7 linked regions of the Homo sapiens genome follow. The protein of the gene in region 1 interacts with the protein of each later gene in a pairwise test. Each region holds a gene or a part of one and is shown in the gene's direction. Other genes may lie near its edges. The genes, in order: WBP1L, CCK, FLNA, CASP6, SGTA, PIAS4 and PRPF40A.

Region 1 (3,500 bases):
GAGTGACCCAAGGTTGCTTCAACTGACACTCTTTGTACTCTGACCTTCCTGGAACTCAGACGAGACAGTGTAGGATGCTGGACAAAGAATGAGAGGGTGTTGGGGGGGTGGTGCTTAGGACAGCGAGGCCCCAGGTGACTGACATTGCCGTAGTTCTTACAATTGTCTCTTGAGAAAGGAGACTGCAGGCGGTTTCCCCAGATGATTCTAAGCCCTCATCACTGCCTCCATTTGGAAACAGACTTCGGGTTTGTCAAACCATGACCTTGCCCCCACCATCCTATCTGCGCCTTTCCCCTTTCTCATCCCCCCCATCAACCCCTGTGTCAGTGATATGGCAAGAAAGCAGCCAGAAGGACTATTGTTTGGTCCAGAAAGGAAATTAGACTCTTGGCTGGGAGGTCTGTCCATCTGAAATGCAGTTGTATTTGTAGCCAACAGGAGTGGTTCCTCCAAACAAGACCTCTCCCTCACCCTCGCTTTTCCCTTTTGAGGACTGAGGACGGGCTCATCTGCCTTTCTGAGGAATTCCAGGAGCAGTCCAGTGCAGGAGAGCACAAGGCTCAAGATGTCCCCACCAGACCTGCAGATATATAAGCAGCAGTGAAGGAGGGCACAGTCATTGTTGCTATTTTAGAAGGGGTGGGGCTGAGAAACTTACTAGAGGACACACAGTGCCAAGCAGGTAGACAGACTCTGTTTAAATGTTTTAAAATGCAGATAACCACAGGGTTCAAATTCTCCTTCCCACCCTTTGTTAAAACAAAAGTTGAAGCTGGGCTGCCAAAAAGCCACAGAGCTGTAGTTTGTTTTTCTGGGTCCTGGCCAGGCGGCATCAGTTGTGAAAAGGAACGAAGTTGCTCATGGCCCCGTCTCAGATTGACAGAGCCTCCTGGGCTTTTGGCAGAGCCGACTCAGGAGCCACCTGAATTGGGTCACCAAAGCCAGGGCAGGGGGGTGGAGTGGTGGGGACAGGGAGACCCAGAGGGCAAGGAGGTAGTCTGGGAAAGCAGGTGCCTCACCCCAAGGGCTTAAAGAAAGTCAGAGAAAGAGCTGCATGAACGGCTAAGTGTCTCTCTAGCTACGGGCGTTTAGGAAAGGAGGCCCAGCAGAGAGCAGTGTCTAGACGGAGAGAAAAGGTGCCCCGTTAAATGAGCTGGCATGTGTTTTCCACGTTCTGGAGGCATGGGAGACATAAAAGCAAAACGCCCTTCTCAGGAAGTCCTCCGATCTCCCTCTTTATTGAGGTCATGGCTTCTGCCTGGTGTGTATGGGAGGGAGGTTGATGTTGGAACAAACACCTGAAGTTCTCATCAAAATGGCACTTTTTGTTGCTTTCAACCCTGTTCCCTCTAACTGCCTCTCAACTTTGCCTGAAGTGTGAAAGTCACGGGCTTTGGGCTGATTTCCTTCCCACCTTCCTTTGGAAAGAAAATTCCTCAGCCAGGAAATCCTTTGGCAGAGTTTTCATCAGACAGGGCAACTCCTTAACTATAGTTGCCTACAGGAAAGGCCTCCGGGAAAAAATGCCATTTCTACCCACCCTTTACCTCTACTAAACTGCATTTTCCTGTGTGCTGAGGAAAATTCTCAATTCTCACACACATACTTACACACACACACGGTTTACACAGACACACAAGCACACATAGACCTGAGCTCTGGCCGGCAACCTTTCCCACATGTCTTTTCAATGTTTCATAACCCAAACCAGTTATTGGGCCTGCATGTGTTGAGAACGGCAGATCCTGTTTAATAGGGGCAGTAGTTGAGGCTATTAAGGACCTGATCGTTGTTAGTATTATCTCCATGCATTTTTACGGCACCTGTACTTTAATTCATCATTCCATCAGTTATTCATTCAGCAAACCCTTATTCCAGTGCTCTTGAACTTTAGCAGGCATCAGAATTTCCTGAAGGGCTACCGAAAACACACACTTCTGGGCCCTACTCCCAGAGCTTTTGATTCAAAACTGAGAATTTAAAAACCTGAGAATGTGCAATTGTAACAAGTTCCTAGTTGATGCTGTGACCTCCTCTGGGCTGGAAACTGGAGAGACAGAATTCTTACCTTCAGAAGGTAATCCAGCGGGGAGGGGATAGGATGTGCATTGGCCCAAACCCCAAAGCCACTCCTCCCTGTTCTCATCCTGGGGCTCTCTCCACTCAGCAAGCTACATTTTCCAGGGAGAGATCAAAGTTGGGAATTTCTGCCCTTGAGATCATTTGGGAGAATTTCACCCAGGCATCAGTTTCCCCTGGTTTGGGCTTTAGGAGGGAGAGGGGTATGTTTCTGGACAGTGGAATTTCCCTGAAGTGACACAAAACAGGCTATTAGCAAATCCTGTCAGTGCTGCCCAACTCGTTTTTCATTTTTTATTCTCTCTCTTTTTTTCTTTCTCTCTCTCTTTCCTTTCCCTCCCTCCCATCTCCCTCCTCCTCTCTCCCCTCCCTCTCCACTCTTCCTCTCCCCTCCCTCCCCACTTTTCCTCCCCCCTCCCTCCCACCCTTCCCTACCCTTCCCCCCACCCCCACCCTTCCCCCACCCTGCCACCCCTCCCCCACCTTCCCACCCTTCCCCCCACCCTCCCCTCCCCTTCCTCCACCCTCCCCTACCCTTCCCCCAGCCTTTCCCTTTCCCCCTTCCCCCTCCTCCTTCCACCTTCTCCTTCCTTCCTTCCTTCCTTCCTTCCTTCCTCTTTTTGTGTGTGTGAGACAAGGTTTCACTCTATCACCCAGGCTGGAGTGTAGTGGTATGATCTTTGGTCACTGCAGCCTTAACCTCCTGGACTCAAGGGATCCTCCTGCCTCAGCCACTTAAGTAGCTGGGACTATGAGTATGTGCCACCATGCCCATCTAATTTTTGTATTTTTTTGTAGAGATAAGGTTTCGCCATGTTGCCCAAGCTTCGTTTTTTACCTGCCGTTTTTTTTTGTTTTGTTTTTAGTTTGTCTTAAGATACCCATTGTTAGCAAGAGCTCAGTAAATAGGAGTTGATTGAATTTCCAGTGCCAAGAACAGAACCTAAAAGCAGACTTTGGACTTGTTCCTAACCTGTGTTTCTTTTTTCCTTTTCTTTCTTGAGACAGCGTCTCACTCCCTCGCCCAGGCTGAAGTGCAGTGGCATGATCTCGCTTCCCAGGTCCAAGCGATTCTCCCACCTCAGCCTCCCAAATAGCTGGAATTACAGGTGTGCGCCAGCATGCCCAGCTAATTTTTGTATTTTTAGTAGAGATGGGGTTTCACCATGTTGGCCAGGCTGGTCTCCAAATTCTGACCTCAAGTGATCCACCTGCCTCAGCCTCCCAAAGTGCTGGGATTACAGGCATGAGCCACCACACTGGGCCCTGTGTTTCTTTATGGAATACTTTTTGGGGGTTAAAAGGGAAATTGAAAGGAAATTTTAAAGGAAACCCTGCCCATCTATGGTTAAGCCTGTAACAACAACAATAAACACACTAAGAACTTACCATACATCAGGCATAGTTCTGCGTATACT
Region 2 (2,930 bases), on another chromosome or scaffold:
TGATGAACAATTAAATAGCAGGGGCTATTTTTCTTCTACGTAGGCTGAGGATATCTGCAAAAAGACCTGAAATGTGCTGAATTGACTGTTGGTTCCAAAACTGGGAAGGGTTGGGGTTGGGGAGAGAAAGGGTGGGGACGTTGTTCTGTGTTGTTTCTGTTTTTAATTAAACTTGCTTAATTTCATTACCCAGGGTAACTGCCTTTGCATTTTCATTTATCAACACATAAGCCATAGTCTGACTCTACTCAGCCTATGGGTAGGAGCTGGCAAGGGCAGCCTCATGCAGAAGGGATATAGACCAGCATGACAGGAGGTGGGGATACAGTGGCCCCCAACACAGTGGGAGTCATTGAGTGGTCCTCCACTCCTCTACCCTTGATTTGGCCTGGGCTTTGTCCATTGAAGTCCCTGAAGGGCCTTTCTTAAGACTGAGCTTGCACAGGAGAAGGTGTTCTGCTGATTTCATACCCCAGGAGGCTTCTGTCTATGAACTTTGAGCTAGGACTGTCTCATGTCTCCAAATAAACTGCCTCTTCATGTCCCTGCTCACTCAGTGTGAGCTCTACAAAAGGATCACACTGTTCCTGAAGACTTAACTTCCATCCCAATGGGACAATTTCAGGTTCAGTTATTGCATTTTGGTCAAAATTGCTGATTTAAATCACCTTTGTTATCACCTCTCTCCCCCCCTTCTTTGAGTCTTACTGAGGTGCCAAGATTTAATCCGACAGTCTTTTTCTGAATATCATTTTTAATTGATATTGATTTATCATTAAAAATAAAATGATCATCAACTCAAAACACTTACTGATAAATGACAAAAGCTTTCTGAATATAACTTTCAAATTCATATTTTTAAAAGAGTATTTATGTAGCAAAGGAGCTTTATTTATCTATTTTTTATTATACTTTAAGTTCTGGGGTACATGTGCAGAACATGCAGGTTTGTTACATAGGTATACACATGCCATGGTGGTTTGCTGCACCCATCAACCAGTCATCTACATTAGGTATTTCCCCTAATGCTATCCCTCCCCTAACCCCCACCCCCCGATAGGCCCTGGTGTGTGATGTTCCCCTCCCTGTGTCCATGTATTCTCATTGTTCAACTTCCACTTATGAGTGAGAACATGCGGTGTTTGGTCTTCTGTTCCTGTGTTAGTTTGCTGAGAATGATGGTTTCCAGCTTCATCCATGTCCCTGCAAAGGACATGAACGCATCCTTTTTATGGCTGCATAGTACTCCATGGTGTAAATGTGCCACATTTTCTTTATCCAGTCTATCATTGATGGGCATTTAGATTGGTTCCAAGTCTTTGCTATTGTGAATAGTGCTGCAGTAAACGTACATGTGCATGTGTCTTTATAGCAGAATGGTTTATAATCCTTTGGGTATATACCCAGTAATGGGATTGCTGGGTCATATGGTATTTCTGGTTCTAGATCCTTGAGGGATTGCCACACTGTCTTCCACAATGGTTGAACTAATTTACACTCCCACCAACGATTTTTTTTTAACCATTCCAACATCAAGATATTATAATTGTGCCACCTTAATAACAAGAGCTCTCCAGGAGTCAGGAATGTTGATGGATATTAAGGGATGAATTTAGGAACAATTAAGTACTGGAAAAATCTTTGGTTGGTTTCTGCTGATGCCATCTACAAAAGGAAAACACCCATCTACCAAAAGAAAGCAAACGGTAGGGAGACTAAGGAAAATCTAGGCAAGTCCCCAGACTGCAAGGCTAGAGAAAATGAATCCACCTAAATACTTGCAGAACGCAAAGCACACCCCTAACTTGTAAATATATTGTCCTCTCTCCAGTTACACAGACATTGGTCCTTCTCCTCTCTCAGATTTTGGTCCATCAGTTCCACTACTTTGATAGCTCTTTGATACCTTTAAGGTGGTGTCTGTTATATTGCGTCTGGCTTTTTCCATTGCTCTCCTTCCCAAATTGAACTAGAGATGCTTTTAGATGCAATGTCCCTGTTTCCTTCCTCCCTGCTCCTTGTAGCTCCTTCTGGACGAATGTCCATCGTTAAGAACCTGCAGAACCTGGACCCCAGCCACAGGATAAGTGACCGGGACTACATGGGCTGGATGGATTTTGGCCGTCGCAGTGCCGAGGAGTATGAGTACCCCTCCTAGAGGACCCAGCCGCCATCAGCCCAACGGGAAGCAACCTCCCAACCCAGAGGAGGCAGAATAAGAAAACAATCACACTCATAACTCATTGTCTGTGGAGTTTGACATTGTATGTATCTATTTATTAAGTTCTCAATGTGAAAAATGTGTCTGTAAGATTGTCCAGTGCAACCACACACCTCACCAGAATTGTGCAAATGGAAGACAAAATGTTTTCTTCATCTGTGACTCCTGGTCTGAAAATGTTGTTATGCTATTAAAGTGATTTCATTCTGCCCTGTCGTTCCCTGCGTCTACTGAGGGCAAAGGGCTCCATTTGGTCCTCAGAACATGCAAGGAGGGAAGCCTGATAGATGCTACACTGGGACAAATCCTTGTAGTAGATGTCCCCAGAAAGGGCTTGGGAAATGCAGCTCAGACTTGGAGCTAACTTTGCTACAGGCCAGGTGGACAGTGAAAGGGCCATCTGTGGGCAACTCCAGAGCCCAGCCCTGGCCACCCTGATCCCCGATCTTATTTACCAATCCTACTCCCATCAGGGTTTCCTTGGGGTTCTCTTGGCCTTTAAACAAGTTACAGGCAGTAACTGGCCATGGTTTTGCATACATTTGATCACTCCATGGCTCTGTGGCACAGAAGTTATCATCCTTTCTTTACAGATGAGGAAACAGGCTCTGAAGAGTGAAAGTGACTGCCCCTTATGCCCCAGCTAAGGAGATTCACAGACTGGAGGGCTTAATGTTCCTAGGCTATCGGGACCTTCATCACTCTAGCA
Region 3 (3,500 bases), on another chromosome or scaffold:
CCCGCACAGCCGTGTGCCCAGCGTGGCCACTCTTCTACTCACAGACAGCAAGGCCATCGTGGACGGGAACCTGAAGCTGATCCTGGGCCTCATCTGGACCCTGATCCTGCACTACTCCATCTCCATGCCCATGTGGGACGAGGAGGAGGATGAGGAGGCCAAGAAGCAGACCCCCAAGCAGAGGCTCCTGGGCTGGATCCAGAACAAGCTGCCGCAGCTGCCCATCACCAACTTCAGCCGGGACTGGCAGAGCGGCCGGGCCCTGGGCGCCCTGGTGGACAGCTGTGCCCCGGGTGAGGGGGCGCAGAGGCAGGAGAGACTGGGCTGGGGTCACCCATGGGTGGCCCTTGAGGGGGTTCTGCGGCCCCCAGACTCACAGCCTCCCTTGCGCCACAGGCCTGTGTCCTGACTGGGACTCTTGGGACGCCAGCAAGCCCGTTACCAATGCGCGAGAGGCCATGCAGCAGGCGGATGACTGGCTGGGCATCCCCCAGGTACACCCGCCCGGCCTGGCTACAGCTGTAGGGGACCGGATCGGCAGTTGGGAGAGACTCGGAGGCCCGATGGCTCCTGTTTTCTGCCTGTGACAGGTGATCACCCCCGAGGAGATTGTGGACCCCAACGTGGACGAGCACTCTGTCATGACCTACCTGTCCCAGTTCCCCAAGGCCAAGCTGAAGCCAGGGGCTCCCTTGCGGCCCAAACTGAACCCGAAGAAAGCCCGTGCCTACGGGCCAGGTGAGGGAGCCCCACCAGGGGTGCACCCGTGTGCCAACGTCTTCCCCATAAGACAGTGTCCCATCTAAACGTGGCGGTCCCCAGGGGTCTTGGGTTACATGGCGGCTAGGTGATCAAGCCACCCAAGAGTCAGACAAGAGTGGGTTTTTGGGACTAGTGAAAACGACAAGAGAATGCTAATAGGTTCCTCCAGTCACAGAAGCCTGCTGCGTGGGGTCCTCGGGGAGGTAGCATCCAGCGGTCTTTATTATAAATGGAGATGAACCAGGTCTCAGTAACAGGGACCTAAAACCCAGTCAAGGCTCACACAGGAACAAGGGCCCAGTGCGGTGAGAATGAATGTTCCAGAAAACAGGCTGGGCCTGTCCCAGCAGCGAGAGCACAGCTGGGTCCCGAGGCCAGGCTCTGTGCCACAGCTCACACTGAATGAACTTGCCCAGTTTGGAATGTGCCTGACTTAGGGGCCAGCAGGGAGGGCTGAAGGGTGGAGGGGTGAGGCTGTGGCCTTAACAGCTGGCCCGTGGTTGGCTCGCCTTCCCCTGCCAGGCATCGAGCCCACAGGCAACATGGTGAAGAAGCGGGCAGAGTTCACTGTGGAGACCAGAAGTGCTGGCCAGGGAGAGGTGCTGGTGTACGTGGAGGACCCGGCCGGACACCAGGAGGAGGTAGGGCCAGCTGCTGGCAGCAGAGGCCCCGCAGCGCTCCCTTTCAGTGGGGCTGCTCTTAGCAAAGGCTCACAGGCTCCTTCCCACTGCAGGCAAAAGTGACCGCCAATAACGACAAGAACCGCACCTTCTCCGTCTGGTACGTCCCCGAGGTGACGGGGACTCATAAGGTGAGCCCTTGGCCAGGGGGGAGGCTTGTGACCTCAGGCAGTGGCTGGAGGCCCCCAGCCCTACCCTCACGGCCCACCCTTCTGGGGACAGGTTACTGTGCTCTTTGCTGGCCAGCACATCGCCAAGAGCCCCTTCGAGGTGTACGTGGATAAGTCACAGGGTGACGCCAGCAAAGTGACAGCCCAAGGTCCCGGCCTGGAGCCCAGTGGCAACATCGCCAACAAGACCACCTACTTTGAGATCTTTACGGCAGGTGAGGGGAGGCTGCCAAGGCCCAGCTGGTCTGTGGGGAGAGCCGCACTGGGGCCTGGGAGCTGAGCAGGTGCCTCGTGGCAGGAGCTGGCACGGGCGAGGTCGAGGTTGTGATCCAGGACCCCATGGGACAGAAGGGCACGGTAGAGCCTCAGCTGGAGGCCCGGGGCGACAGCACATACCGCTGCAGCTACCAGCCCACCATGGAGGGCGTCCACACCGTGCACGTCACGTTTGCCGGCGTGCCCATCCCTCGCAGCCCCTACACTGTCACTGTTGGCCAAGGTAGGCCCGGCCCTGACTGCCCTCTGCTGTGGCACTGCAGTCTGGGCCTCCCACAGGAGGGGGACCCCCTGGGCCAGTCCCGCTGCAGCCCGCCCCGGGGCCCCTACTCTTTGAGCTTCTACTGTCTGGGCACATGCTGTTTTTCCTCCCCTGCTGGGGCCCTTCCTCCTCTCCTCTCCTCGCCCCTCTCCATCTCTCTCCTCACGCTTTCACCTTCGGAAGAGCTCGCTCCAGCTGTCTAGAAACCTGCTGCTCTCTGCTCTGCCCACAGGGTCAACGGTACTTGGATCTGTCTTCTTCTTGGAAGGGGGAGGGTGGGGGGCTCTGGGCTGGTGTGGAGCAGGTGGGAGGAGGCCTGCCATGTCCTGGCCCAGGCCACAGTTCCTGGGGTCACAGTCCCTTCCAGTTCTGTCTTGCATGTCCCCCTCCAGCCAAGCTCTGAGGGACCCACCAATCCTGACAGCCCGGCCCTGTGGGAGGCAAGGGAGGGGTCGCCCAGCCGAGCTGCTGGTGCTCAGCTGGCCCCTCTGCCTGCAGCCTGTAACCCGAGTGCCTGCCGGGCGGTTGGCCGGGGCCTCCAGCCCAAGGGTGTGCGGGTGAAGGAGACAGCTGACTTCAAGGTGTACACAAAGGGCGCTGGCAGTGGGGAGCTGAAGGTCACCGTGAAGGGCCCCAGTAAGTTGGCCTGGAGCCAGGCCAGGATGGGTGGCGGCAGCCCCCGGGTTCACTGCTGGGCAGGCCTGAGGCCCTCCTTGTCTTGGCAGAGGGAGAGGAGCGCGTGAAGCAGAAGGACCTGGGGGATGGCGTGTATGGCTTCGAGTATTACCCCATGGTCCCTGGAACCTATATCGTCACCATCACGTGGGGTGGTCAGAACATCGGGCGCAGGTGAGGCCCCCAGGCATCCCTCTCCCAGCTCTGCACACTCTGCCTCTTCTCTTCCTTCTGCCTCCCCACCTGATGATGAGGGGCCACATGGGCTCTTCCTGCCTGGCCGCCACAGTGGGGCCCACGCTGGCTCATGTGGTGATCCTCGGTGTTCCCTGTGTGGCTCTCGCATTTGCAGTCCCTTCGAAGTGAAGGTGGGCACCGAGTGTGGCAATCAGAAGGTACGGGCCTGGGGCCCTGGGCTGGAGGGCGGCGTCGTTGGCAAGTCAGCAGACTTTGTGGTGGAGGCTATCGGGGACGACGTGGGCACGCTGGGTAAGTTGGAGGCTGCAGCATGGGCACCTGGGGACAGACGATGGCAAGGACGGCCCACCCTGAGGCTCCAGGGCACTGAGGGGACTGGTGGCTGTTGTCAGGCTTCTCGGTGGAAGGGCCATCGCAGGCTAAGATCGAATGTGACGACAAGGGCGACGGCTCCTGTGATGTGCGCTACTGGCCGCA
Region 4 (2,659 bases), on another chromosome or scaffold:
AGAGTGTTGGGATTACAGGCGTGAGCCACTGTGCCCGGCCAAAGATTTTGAACTACAAAAGAGAAACCTGACATGCCAGTGTCACAATTCTGTATTTCCATGAATAGCATGGAGGACATGAAATAACATTATGTTAGTCTATTCTTGCATTGCTATAAAGACCTGAGACTGGGTAATTTATAAGGAAGAGAGATTTGATTGGCCTACAGTTCTGCAGGCTGTACAGGAAGCATGGTGCTGGCATCTGCTTCTGGTGAGGCCTTAGGAAGCTTACAATTATGGTGGAAGGTGACAGAGAGCCAGCATATGACTTGTTGGGAGTGGGAGCAAGAGAGTGCCAAGGGAGAGGTCCCAGACTCTCTTAAGTAACCAGATTTCATGTGAACTGAGTGGGAGCTCACTTACACCAAGAGGATGATGCTAAACCATTCATGAGAGACCCTCCCCGATGATCCAGTCACCTTCCACCAGGCTTCACCTCCCACACTGGGAACCACATTTTAACATGAGATTTGGAGGGGACAGACGTTCAAACCGTATCAAACATGAAACTGCATTTCGCATCCTACCATAAAGCCTTGTTTTGGGGTGAGGAAGTGGCTGTAAGTGAAGAATGACTGCCTCGTTTCTGGTTTGGACAACTGCATTGGAATGTCTGTGGGACATGGAATTGGTCATACAGGTGTAGAACCTAAGACAGGTGGCCTCGGCTGGAGAAATAAATCAGGAGGTGGTCGTGGAAGCCATGGGATTAGATGAGTTTACTCGTGTTGAATACAGCCTGAAAAAGGAGCATAAAACAAAACCGAGGGGCACCCATGAGGAATGGGCTGAAGAGGGAAGATACTGAGGAGGATGGACACCAGGAGAGAAACAAGAAACAAATAATGACATGATTGTTTTGTGAAAAGGGGAGTGGCCAACACTGTCAAACACAAGAGAATTGGAAATAACTAATGAGCTACTGTGGGAAGAAAGCCACAAATGAAATCGTTTTCCAAGTTACTTTCTCTCTCTATGCCTTAGATTCTTGGTAAAAAGAGCACCTGCCTCATGGGGTGGTTGTGTGGGCAAAATCACCTGACTGATTTAATGAATGCAAACCACTTAGAACAGTGCCTGGCATACAGCACGCCCTCAGTAAAGGCTCGCTCTTACTCTTATTGCAGTTGACTGGGCAGGTGATGTCATTAGGTTAAAGGTGTTCTGTTATATTTAGGAAGGACAGTAGAAAAAAGGCCTGAAAATAAGCCTGCTGATACGAAGATTAAAATCTGCCTATAAAAACGGGATAGTAGGGATTTTCTATTTATTTTATGATTTGAAATCATTCAGGACTTTCTTTTGATGCTCATAATTCTTTAACCATTTCAGAACTGATTGATGCATTTATAATGCTACAACAGAATCTTATTGGCTGGCTGTATTCGTGTATAGGGTGACCATAACAAAGTACCACAGACTGTGTGGTTTAAACAGCAGGAATTTATCGTCACAGTCCTGGAGCTGGAAGTCTCAGATGAACGTGTGGGGAGGATTGGTTTCTTCTGAGGCCTCCCTTTTTGGCTTGTAGGTGGCCATCTTGTCCCTGTGCCTTCATATGGTCTTTCTTCTGTGCATGTCTGTGTCCCAATTTCTTCTTATGAAGACACTAGTCATGTTGGATTTGGTTTCACCCGTATGACCTCATTTTCCTTAATCACCTCTAAAGGCCCTGTCTTCCAATACAGTCAGAGTTGAGGTATTGGGGCTAGGACTTCAACATATGAATTTTTGGGGAACACAATTCAGCTTGTAAAAGTCACTTATGAGAAGAGTTTAATGTTAGCCTCTGAGTGAGTCAGAATTTAATGTTAATTATGAGTCTAAATTTAATGTAAATTCTGAGTGAGTCAGAATTAGTGGGTAAAAATTTGAGACCTCACTTTTTAATGGGCACACAAGGAAGATGGTGCATTAGTAGGTATCTCCTCAGGTCAGGCTGGATGTCATTTTAACTCCTAACAATTTATAGCAGCAGCCAGGCAAGCAAAAGTCAATCTGGAAATACACTGCCTGCCTAAACAGAAACACTTAGGTCAATACTATAGCTTTCAAAAGGGAAGGTAACACCGTGTGCCCTGGGTGTGGTTAATCTGTAAGAAATTTTAAAACCACAAGCTTTTTCCTCTACAGTATACCCTTCTACCAACATAATTTGATGTATACTTGGGGATGCCAATTTTTTCTTAAAACATTAACTAAAAGAAAGCCTAAGTAAGGAAACAACTTTGTTGGCTTTTGTGCCCTCCAAACCTGAATGTATTGCTTCTGAACTGCTCAGAATGTGGTTTCTGTTGTAATGAAGGGGTACTGGCTTACACATTCACTGCACACATTAAGCACTGGGAAGGAAACAGTAGGCAAAGAGGTGGGTTTTTCCTCCTTGTCTTGTAGGCATGTCGGGGAAACCAGCACGATGTGCCAGTCATTCCTTTGGATGTAGTAGATAATCAGACAGAGAAGTTGGACACCAACATAACTGAGGTGGATGCAGCCTCCGTTTACACGCTGCCTGCTGGAGCTGACTTCCTCATGTGTTACTCTGTTGCAGAAGGTGTGTGGTGTTTAAAACAAACATATAATTGCCTCTCTTGGCTAAGGTCCTGTAAGTTTCACC
Region 5 (2,529 bases), on another chromosome or scaffold:
CCCCAGATTCAGCAGCTGTAAGTGACAACCGGGTTTCTTCGGGTCTTGTTGTGGTTAAATTTCCTTTTATTGTGGGTAAATTCACTTAACATAAAACTAACCACTTTAAAGTGTGCAACTTAATGGCATTAAGGACTTTCACACTGTCATGCAACTGTCACCACTATCACACTGTCATGCAACTGTCACCACCATCACACTGTCATGCAACTGTCACCACCATTGAGCACCAACCCATCTTCATCACCTCCGAAAGAAGCCCCTTCCCCCTCAGCTGTCACTCCCCAACCCCTCTCCTATCCCCTGACAACCACGCATCCCCTTCCTGTCTCTGTGGATGGGCCTGTCCTGGACATTTCGTAGAAATGGGATCACACACTGCGTGAACTTTGGTGTCTGGCGTCTCTCACTGAGCGTGACGTCCTCAAGGTGCATGTGTGCTGGGGCCTGGGTCAGGGCCTCGCTCCTTTTCATGGCTGAGTAATATTCCAGTGTGGAGGGACCACGCTGTGCTGATCCACACATCTATCCATGGACATTTGGGCTGTTTCTACCTTTTGTCTGTTGTGAACGGTGCTGCTTGAGCACGGGTGTGCAATCGTCTGTGTGAATCCTGTTTTCGTTTCTCTTGGATATAAACTTCTGAGTGCACTCGCTGGCTCATAGGGTCACTCCCCAGTAAGCGCTGTGCGCACTGGGGAGCTGCTCACCTGTTTTCATGGTGAAATCTTTTTTTCTTTCTCCTTTTTTTTTTTTTGAGACAGAATCTTGCTCTGTCACCCAGGCTGGAGTGCAGTGGCAGAATCTTGGCTCACTGCAACCTCTGCCTCCCGGGATCAAGTGGGTCTTCCCAAGTAGCTGGAATTACAGGCATCCACCACCATGCCCGGCTGATTTTTGCATTTTTAGTAGAGATGGGGTTTCACCATGTTGGCCAGGCTGGTCTTGAACTCCTGACCTCAGGTGATCCACCCGCCTCAGCCTCCCAAAGTGCAGGGATGACAGGTGTGAGCCACCGCGGCTGGCCCACGGTCAAATCTTAAAGCATGGTTTCCCAGCCACAGCACCGTGGCCATTTGAGCTGGACCAGTTTCTGGAGCAGGGCCGTCCTGGGCACTGCAGGGTGCTGAGCACTGTCTCTAGCCTCCATCCACTCCATGCCAGGAGCACCCCCTGCCCCTGTCTTGGCGTAACCCAATCATGGCTGTTGCAAATGTCCGCTGCCATTGCAGGGGTCCTCTGGGGGCAGGATCACCCCCTGGCTGAGAACTACGCTCTTTAGGCCAAAGAAAGAGGGGTGTTCTGGGAAAGCAGGTGAAAGTCACAGGGTGGGTTTGGGCCCTGGAGGCCCACCAGGTGGTGAGAGAGAATCCTCTCCTGCAGGGGAAGGTGAAGGGCTGAGAGGGATTCTCTCCCGGGCCACTGCGAGGGCCTGCAGTGGGGGTGGCGGTCAGGCTGTCCCGGCTGCGAGTCACGCGCTCTCTCCTGCAGCATGTCCGGCATGATTTCGGGTGGCAACAACCCCTTGGGAACTCCCGGCACCAGCCCCTCGCAGAACGACCTGGCCAGCCTCATCCAGGCGTGAGTGGAACTGCTTCCAAGAGGACGGAGGACGTGGGCGGCGGGCAGGGCTCGCAGGCGGAAGGGAAGGAGGAGAGCGAAAGTGCTGCGTCCCCTGCTCCGAAGGGCCCAGCGTCCTCCAGCGAGGGGTCAGGCCTGTCTTTGGGGTGGAGGGCCCGAGGGGTCAGCTGGGGATGGACGGAGGCAGCAGGCAGCCTCCTGGCCCTGGCTGAGCCCCATGTGCCCTTCCCCGCAGGGGCCAGCAGTTTGCCCAGCAGATGCAGCAGCAGAACCCAGAGTTGATAGAGCAGCTCAGGAGCCAGATCCGGAGTCGGACGCCCAGCGCCAGCAACGACGACCAGCAGGAGTGACGCTGCGTGAGTGCATGGGGCCGGGGGCTGGGGGGTGGCCAGCAGGAGTGACACCACGTGAGTGCCTGGCAGTGAGGGCAGCCAGCAGGAGTGACGCCCGGGGGCTGTGGAGCCTGTCTGGACACTGGACAGCGAGTCCTGGGTGCATCCAGCTCAGAAGATCACCCTGAACCGCCCAGGCAGGTGGGGGCATCTCTGGGCATTGGGCCCCTTTCCAGGTGGCCACCAAGTCCTGCTCCCCACTCCTTTCCCATCTGTGGATCGGCGCTGGGTGGAGATTAGGGGAGAGCCACAGCTCCCTGGAAGGGCTGGTGTCTGGGGTCCCCCCTGCCTAAGGCCGCCTGCAGAAGCTCTTTGTTTCTGCAGTGTCGGGGCTGCCACCTCGGGGGTGGGGGCGAGGTCATCGAGTGGTGGAAAGGACAAGCCGGGTACCTGCCTTTGACTGCGCCCGAGCGTTCTGCCTGCATTTTGTGAGGGATTTTTTGTCCTTTTCTCACTGTGAGCAGGTGTTGCACTTACAGTTGTTTAAAAATACACTCAGTGTCCCCCATGGGTTCCAGGGGCCCGTGGCTGGCTTGGTTTCCTTCCCCAGGGGCCC
Region 6 (3,500 bases), on another chromosome or scaffold:
CTGAGCAGGAACTGTGTGTCAGGACCTCATAGCCCACAGCAGTGTGGACAGGCCCCTGGTGCCTCCCCAGCAGCCGTGGCCATTCAGGCTGCAGGTGGGCATTGAGCCCAGTCTCTGCCTCAGCCATAGCCCTGAGCTCAGGGCCAGGGAGGCCTCCGCAGCCCCAGCCCCCAGGGCAGAGAGAGTGTGCAGCCTCTGGGACTCCCAGATAGGGAGCGGAACGTCCTGGGCCTTTGCGGACCTGTGCCTTGAGGCGCTCAGATTTCACCAAGTCCTCTGTGTGCCTGGAGGTCTCTCCGTCTCTTCTTCCTGCCTCCCCTCCCCTGCCCCCACTCTTTCCTTCGCACAGTAAACATCGGAGCGCCTGCTGGGTGGGTGCGTGATGGGCACCAGGCGTGGGCACGCAGCAGGGAACAGGACCAAGGCCACGAGGTTCAGAACCCTGTGCATGCCCCCTCCCACCCTGCTGACCCAGCAACCTGCCTGGCCCCTGCTGTGGCCTGAGGGCCCTTCTCTGGCACGCTTCAGTCCATTGGGTGCCAGCTGGCCCCCGCTCCCCTGCCCAGGGAGGCAGCGTTGATGGGGGTAGGGGGAAGGGGAACTGGCTGCTTTTCCCCTCCCATCTGCAGCCCTGGGACTTAGTGAGGTTAGGCTGGAGGGGCTGTGCTTCCAGGTGAGGATGGAGGAAGTGGAGGAGGGAGGAAGGTGCTGTCGGTGGTTCCTGCGGCAGCCGAGGCTCCTCCCTCCAGCCTGAGGCTCCGCCTTCCAAGTGAGGCTCCGCCTCCACCTTTTTTCTCTTGCAGGAGGTGTCTAGCAGCAGCCTCCTGGGGAGCAGGTTGGCCCAGTGGCACCTGTCCTGGGGGACTCAGGGTCTTGGCCTGAGTTCCATCGGACTGACTTTCCCAGCCTTTGCTCTCTCATGAGGGAAGCTGTTCCCCCTGCCAGGTTCTTGGGCAGAGCTGGCTGTCTCTGAAGGTTGGGCCTTGGGAAGGACCTGCATCACAGGGAGGCTGGGCTTTCCTGGGAGCGGCAGGGCAGGCTTGGTCCAGGGCGGGGGACGGGGCTGACCAGCTTCCTTCCTGCACGGGGACCAGTAGCTCCGTCCCACAATACATCGCTGTGCCCTGAGCCACCAGGGACCCCGGTCACCTGATCTCCGGGAGAGCCTGCTCCCCTGTCTACACCAGTGTGCCTGTGCTGGCGGCTCAGAACAAAGAGGCCATCCCCACCCTGCCTCTCTCTCCCACTGGCTCTCTCTCCATCTCAGGCCGCCAGGTGAACCTCCTTTCCTGGATTCCGTGCTCTTGGGGGACTCCCTGGGGGCCACCTCGGTCCTCAGAAGTTTCCTGGAGCATAGCCCCTGGCCCCGAAGCAGTGGTCCCCATGGTTTTAGGACCTGAGATGCCATCTGTCCGCCCTGACCCTGGGCTGTGTCCCTCCCCAGGGTGCACTCTGTGGTGCTGGCCTTGCCCGGGGGCCGCCTCCGGAGGACCCAGTTCCACCGGCTTCTCCCTCACTCCCTCCTCTGGCTGTGACCCACCGTCCAGCGTGAGGCCCACCGCTCTGGTCTGTTTCCCCGGAATAGCCGCCGGCCGGCTCCAGGATGGAGACCGCGCCAGGCGGACAGGAGCCATAAATCACGCGGTGCGGAATGCTGGGCTGGGGGAGGGGGTGACAGAGCCACAGAGCAGGCTGCAGGGGCCTCAGGCTGTAGGTGATCGGCTCCAGTGGGAGGTGCCGTGTGTGGGGACGGGGCTGGCACCCAGAACAGTGCGGAGAACGGCCCAAGGTCGCACAGCGGCCTGCCTTCCCTCCTCCCGAGCCGACTGGCTCCTGCTCCTGAGCAGAGGCTCTGGCCTGGACCTCTGCAGGCTGGGAACCCTGTCCTGCCTGTCGGCAAGGAAGCCGGCGCCACCCCTTTCCAGCCTGCGCCACCTGGGGAGTCCGGCTAGGGAGCCTGACCCTCCTGTCAGGGTACTTGGGAAGAGAGGCTGTCAGGAAATGTGGGGCAGAAGGAAGGATACATGCTGGCCGGGCACAGAGCTGCTCCTCCAGGGTCTTGGCCCGCAGCGGGCACCCCGAGGAATCTGCCTGCCCACCCGCCTGCTGTGCAGAGTGGAGCCCCTGTCACCACGACTCCAGATGCCCCCAGAGGCAGATAGCCCTGGTACCAGCCAAGAGCCGCCGGTCTGGCATGTGCTGTGCTGTGTGTAGGCACCTGTGCCCTTCAGCCTCTGAAGCCCTTGGGCCAGCATTGCCCAGGCCACAGCAAGGTAGCGTGGTCCCTGCTCAGGTGCAGCACAGAAGTGCCAGGTGATAAGTCTCATGGCACACGGAGGGCTTTCAGGGGCAGCTGTCAGTAGCAGGAGCCATTTACTCTACATTTGTGAGGAGGTAGCAGTCAGGAAGGCCTCCTGGAGGCAGCAGCGTTTCAGTCCAGACCCGAGGGTGACTCTCAAGAAGCCAGGCAGAGAGGAGGGGGCAGGGGAGCGTATTCCAGGCAGAGGGCAGTGAGGGCAGAGGCCGATGGCCAGAGAGGGCTCATTCATGGGGCTGAATGGAGTTCATTGTGGCCAGAACATGGTGCGCCCAGGAGGAGGGACGCAGTAGCCTGGGCGCGGGCGGCAGAGGCTGGAACCCGAGAATGGTGGGCCCGGGGAAGGCTGGGGGCTACCCTGCTTGCCCCGAGGGCTTCAGCGCCCCTGAGGTTCTGGTATGATTTTTGGGGTCAGTGAGGAAACTGAAGTGCAGGAGGCAAGTGGCCGTCTGCCTTCCACAGCCAGGCCTGCTGCCCGCCCAGGCCCACCATCTGTCCGTCTGCACACTGGGGGCCTGGATGGGCACGGAGCGTCCTGTGTCACTGTCCCACATGTGGGGTAGTCTGACCCACTCAGCCCGCTGGCACTTCCCATACCTGTGGTTGGGGAACAGGGGGACTCCGCCAGCTCTGCCCCAGGTCTTGGCCTTCAGGTTGAAGAGGAGGGATGGGCCCACTGCTACCAGATGGGGGGCTGCCAGCAGCCACCCCCATGTCCCGCTAGTCCTTCTCCCATCCCCTGTGGCCCCCTGCCCTGCCCAGCCCAGCTCCCCAACCTGCCCGCTGGCTGCAGCCTCCTGCTCTGCTTCCTGCCCACTGGTCCCCCTCCCATGGCAGCCTGTGAATGTTTTCACTGATGGGTAGAGTGGTCGGCATCACCCCTGTGCCTAGCCAGGGGCACCTGTTCCCCGCCCCTCCAGGACAGTGCCCCCTGTGTCCCTCATACCTGACTGTGCTGCCTCTACTCTTGATCTGGGGGACCTGGGTTGGGGAATCAGTGCTGGTAGCTCTTAGCTGGACAGGGTGGGTCCGGGAGTTAGAGAACTTGTATGTGCCGGGGAGGGGACAGCCTGGGGAGGGGGCCAGCACATGGGCCAGCTGGAGGGGGAATGGTCCCATCCGATCAGCTTTTTTTTTTTTTTTTTTTGAGATGGAGTCTGACTGTCGCCCGTGCTGGAGTGCA
Region 7 (3,500 bases), on another chromosome or scaffold:
TAAATGCCCCTGGAAGGAATACAAATCAGATTCTGGAAAGCCTTACTATTATAATTCTCAAACAAAAGAATCTCGCTGGGCCAAACCTAAAGAACTTGAGGATCTTGAAGGTAAAATGGGGAAAAGTAGTTTTCAATGTATATGTTTTACATATATATGCCATTCACTTTGAAACAATTCCTCCAGAATAGGATTGTTCAAACAAAGGCCTTATTTTTTTTTTTAATTAAATGATTAGAACATTTAAAATGGCGTATAACAGTTTTTTGGGCTCTTATTTTCTTGTTGCTTTAGATCTCAGTTCTGTAGATTTTAAATAGATTTTTATTTGATTTGATTCCACTGAAACTAGGATACCAGAATACCATTGTTGCTGGAAGTCTTATTACAAAATCAAACCTGCATGGTGAGCTGCTTTGATAATTCATTTTCTGTCATACTTAACATTTTTATTAGAGTATGTCACTAATATTCACTAACCATAATTGGATAAATCTGCAGTGAAAAATCTCTAAGAATTCTTTTCATTAAAGGGTTATATTATAAATGAGCTTGTAGCTTTTAAAGTCGTACTTTGGTTTTTAGAAAAAAGATCGTTTATCATTCAATTGAACAAGGAGTTCATATACAAAATTTCCAAGTCCTACTATGAGTGGTGCATACATAGAACATGTGTTTTAACTCATTTCATGGTAATAGATAGTGGAGAACCTTGAATCTGTATCCATTTATATTTTGTTAGTATATTGTCAGACTATATATTTAATGCTAGTTTTGTTTAGCACAGTGTTGCAAAATAGCCTTGATATGTTCTTTATGGAAGAATTAAGGTAAACCAAGTATCATGCCTTACTTATAAAGGGAAAATTTTTCAACATTGGAACTAATCAGAATAACCCTTAAAAATCTAGAAATACTTAATACTAAATATAAAACCTAAGACTTAAAATAGAGATAATAAGTAAGGATTGAAAATCTAGTTTTTATACTCACTTCTAATAGAATCTAGTGTCATAAATTATACAAAACTAGAAGCAGCAGATTGTAGGAGAATGGGGCTAATAAAGTAGATAGTGATGTGGAATGACATCTGGCAGGAAAAGAGAATAAAAATTTCCTAAAAGACTGTCATATTAAGCCCCTTTACCTTTTCCTTGTGCCACCTCATTAGATAGATAGATCATCATTGTATCAGAAAAATGTTAATTTATATTATTAATGATAACTTTGTAAGTATGTTTTTTCAGCCATCCTAAACAGATTTTCAGAAATGTTTTTCTTTAAAGGGTGATAAGTTTTAAAAATTTTTTTTATAAAGAGTTAGGCTTGTATTATTACTTAATGTGGAGAACCTCATTCCCTAGTAATGTTAAATAAAAGGTATTTTTGTTACATCCAAAGGAAAATGTACTGGAATGAAAAATGAAATTGTGCAGATCTTTAAAGCTCAGTTTAAGTTACCTATACTAGCATTGGCTAATAATAATATTGTAGATAGGTAGATTCCCAGTTGATCATTTATGAATTATCAAGCTCATTTCTGATATAACCCTACTACAAATAGTTGGTGTGCGTAACTATCTATCTACTTGTCAATGCTAGTATATATGTGCTGGAATTTTATAATAAATTTGATCCCATTTTGAATTTAGTATCTTAAAAATATATCAAACTAGTCTCATCCCTGAAGAAAATACAGTTTTCATCCAGAATTATGCAGATACTTTCATAGAGTTGTTGCAGCAGCCTTTGGGAAAGCAGCAGCATGGAATAAGCTTTCCTAGTAATTACTGTTATTTAAGTTTGTTGTATTCTTTATTTGCTATACTAGACTTTCGGAGCAAGAATTTGTTCTGTAAAAGTGATTTTTTATTTTTTAGGATGGTAAATGAAATCCTATTGTATGATACTTTATCTTCTTTTAAAGTTTGTTTTCAGTGATTATATTTTAAAACTAGTAGATGACTTTTTTTCTCTCTTTAATAGCAATGATCAAAGCTGAAGAAAGCAGGTAAGCAATTTTGGACATCAATTTTTATTTACAAATTTGGTCTCTCCTATGATATCCTTGTGTTTTCTCAATTTTCATAATACAAATAATTAACATGTTAGGCTTGATATTTTGATGTCCTTGTAGCATTTTGTTGAGGAAAAATTAGGGAGGGGGATATTTACTCAATTTGATGTTTTGCTATACAGTAATTATTAGAATTTGGACTGTATCCCTTAACAAATTAAGAAGACTGTGTTACAGAAGAGTCCCAAATTCCGTTTGAGTTGATTAGGGAATGGACGAAATATATCTGTGTATCTCTTCCTTTATATAGGGTTTCCTCTAAATGGGCAAACTGGAGAAAATTTAAAGTTCTTAGAGAACTTTCTAATACAGGTCATTTTTCGTGGTGTAAATACAGTCTGATAGATTGGGTATTTTATAAATGTGAACGCTTACTGAACTTTTGAGTGCCTGTAATACATTACCATGAATGTTAACGGAATTAAAGTAGTACAGTTACATTCTGTGGTTTTAAAATCTTTTTTAATGGGCTTGGCATTTCTTGCCGTTTTTTCCTTCAATTATTTTTCTTATTATTTGATTTTATGACCATTTTAAAGCTACCTTTATTTAGCTTTCTGATTACAATAATGAAATGACCAGTGTTCTCTTTTTTTAATGTATAGTAAGCAAGAAGAGTGCACCACAACATCAACAGCCCCAGTCCCTACAACAGAAATTCCGACCACAATGAGCACCATGGCTGCTGCCGAAGCAGCAGCTGCTGTTGTTGCAGCAGCAGCAGCGGCAGCAGCAGCAGCAGCTGCAGCCAATGCTAATGCTTCCACTTCTGCTTCTAATACTGTCAGTGGAACTGTTCCAGTTGTTCCTGAGCCTGAAGTTACTTCCATTGTTGCTACTGTTGTAGATAATGAGAATACAGTAACTATTTCAACTGAGGAACAAGCACAACTTACTAGTACCCCTGCTATTCAGGATCAAAGTGTGGAAGTATCCAGTAATACTGGAGAAGAAACATCTAAGCAAGAAACTGTAGCTGAGTAAGTTTAGTAACTTGTCTTCTGAAAATCAGTACCAGATTGCATTAAATAAAAGTAATTGCCAGTTTAGTTAGTGGCCATTAATAGTTTAAATAAATTTTTTTGAGAATCGTAATATCACCGTTAAGACAGTTGATCAGTTTTCAGGCCGAATTTTGGAGGGTTATGCCAGCAAACTTGAAAAATAGTTCAGTGAAATTTTAACAAGTAGAGCCAAGGCTAGGGAGTTGGGGCACAAATCTAAAAGATTGCCAAAAACCTTAGTAAGCAAGATACATCATATTTTGATGCAATATTTTACATCAGATCAGTGCAAAAATTCATGATTAACAAACTATCAGTATTTTCAGTTAAGACAGGTGTATTGTTTCTTCTTTGGTTATTGGTGTTTTGGGTTTCAACCTCCTATAAATCAGTTAAAAAAATACAGCTTTGTAGAAAAA

Evidence for each region.
Region 2: the proteins of WBP1L (region 1) and CCK interact in binary tests that used the Homo sapiens proteins (3 or more experiments, as listed by UniProt).
Region 3: the proteins of WBP1L (region 1) and FLNA interact in binary tests that used the Homo sapiens proteins (3 or more experiments, as listed by UniProt).
Region 4: the proteins of WBP1L (region 1) and CASP6 interact in binary tests that used the Homo sapiens proteins (3 or more experiments, as listed by UniProt).
Region 5: the proteins of WBP1L (region 1) and SGTA interact in binary tests that used the Homo sapiens proteins (3 or more experiments, as listed by UniProt).
Region 6: the proteins of WBP1L (region 1) and PIAS4 interact in binary tests that used the Homo sapiens proteins (3 or more experiments, as listed by UniProt).
Region 7: the proteins of WBP1L (region 1) and PRPF40A interact in binary tests that used the Homo sapiens proteins (3 or more experiments, as listed by UniProt).

What each region holds. Positions count from the first base shown.
Region 1 is NC_000010.11:102,799,448-102,802,947, forward strand, and holds part of WBP1L (WW domain binding protein 1-like isoform 1 precursor), read left to right. Parts: intron 1-3,500.
Region 2 is NC_000003.12:42,257,326-42,260,255, reverse strand, and holds the end of CCK (cholecystokinin preproprotein), read left to right. Parts: intron 1-2,024; coding exon 2,025-2,158; 3' UTR 2,159-2,430; downstream 2,431-2,930. UniProt on the Homo sapiens protein: This peptide hormone induces gall bladder contraction and the release of pancreatic enzymes in the gut. Its function in the brain is not clear.
Region 3 is NC_000023.11:154,364,635-154,368,134, reverse strand, and holds part of FLNA (filamin-A), read left to right. Parts: intron 1-44; coding exon 45-293; intron 294-396; coding exon 397-494; intron 495-590; coding exon 591-738; intron 739-1,284; coding exon 1,285-1,403; intron 1,404-1,495; coding exon 1,496-1,573; intron 1,574-1,664; coding exon 1,665-1,827; intron 1,828-1,910; coding exon 1,911-2,111; intron 2,112-2,648; coding exon 2,649-2,786; intron 2,787-2,875; coding exon 2,876-2,999; intron 3,000-3,177; coding exon 3,178-3,314; intron 3,315-3,415; coding exon 3,416-3,500. UniProt on the Homo sapiens protein: Promotes orthogonal branching of actin filaments and links actin filaments to membrane glycoproteins. Anchors various transmembrane proteins to the actin cytoskeleton and serves as a scaffold for a wide range of cytoplasmic signaling proteins.
Region 4 is NC_000004.12:109,690,787-109,693,445, reverse strand, and holds part of CASP6 (caspase-6 isoform alpha precursor), read left to right. Parts: intron 1-2,436; coding exon 2,437-2,596; intron 2,597-2,659.
Region 5 is NC_000019.10:2,756,745-2,759,273, reverse strand, and holds part of SGTA (small glutamine-rich tetratricopeptide repeat-containing protein alpha), read left to right. Parts: coding exon 1-17; intron 18-1,491; coding exon 1,492-1,581; intron 1,582-1,816; coding exon 1,817-1,931; 3' UTR 1,932-1,937; intron 1,938-2,529. UniProt on the Homo sapiens protein: Co-chaperone that binds misfolded and hydrophobic patches-containing client proteins in the cytosol. Mediates their targeting to the endoplasmic reticulum but also regulates their sorting to the proteasome when targeting fails.
Region 6 is NC_000019.10:4,014,236-4,017,735, forward strand, and holds part of PIAS4 (E3 SUMO-protein ligase PIAS4), read left to right. Parts: intron 1-3,500.
Region 7 is NC_000002.12:152,675,962-152,679,461, reverse strand, and holds part of PRPF40A (pre-mRNA-processing factor 40 homolog A), read left to right. Parts: coding exon 1-110; intron 111-352; coding exon 353-406; intron 407-1,986; coding exon 1,987-2,011; intron 2,012-2,682; coding exon 2,683-3,057; intron 3,058-3,500.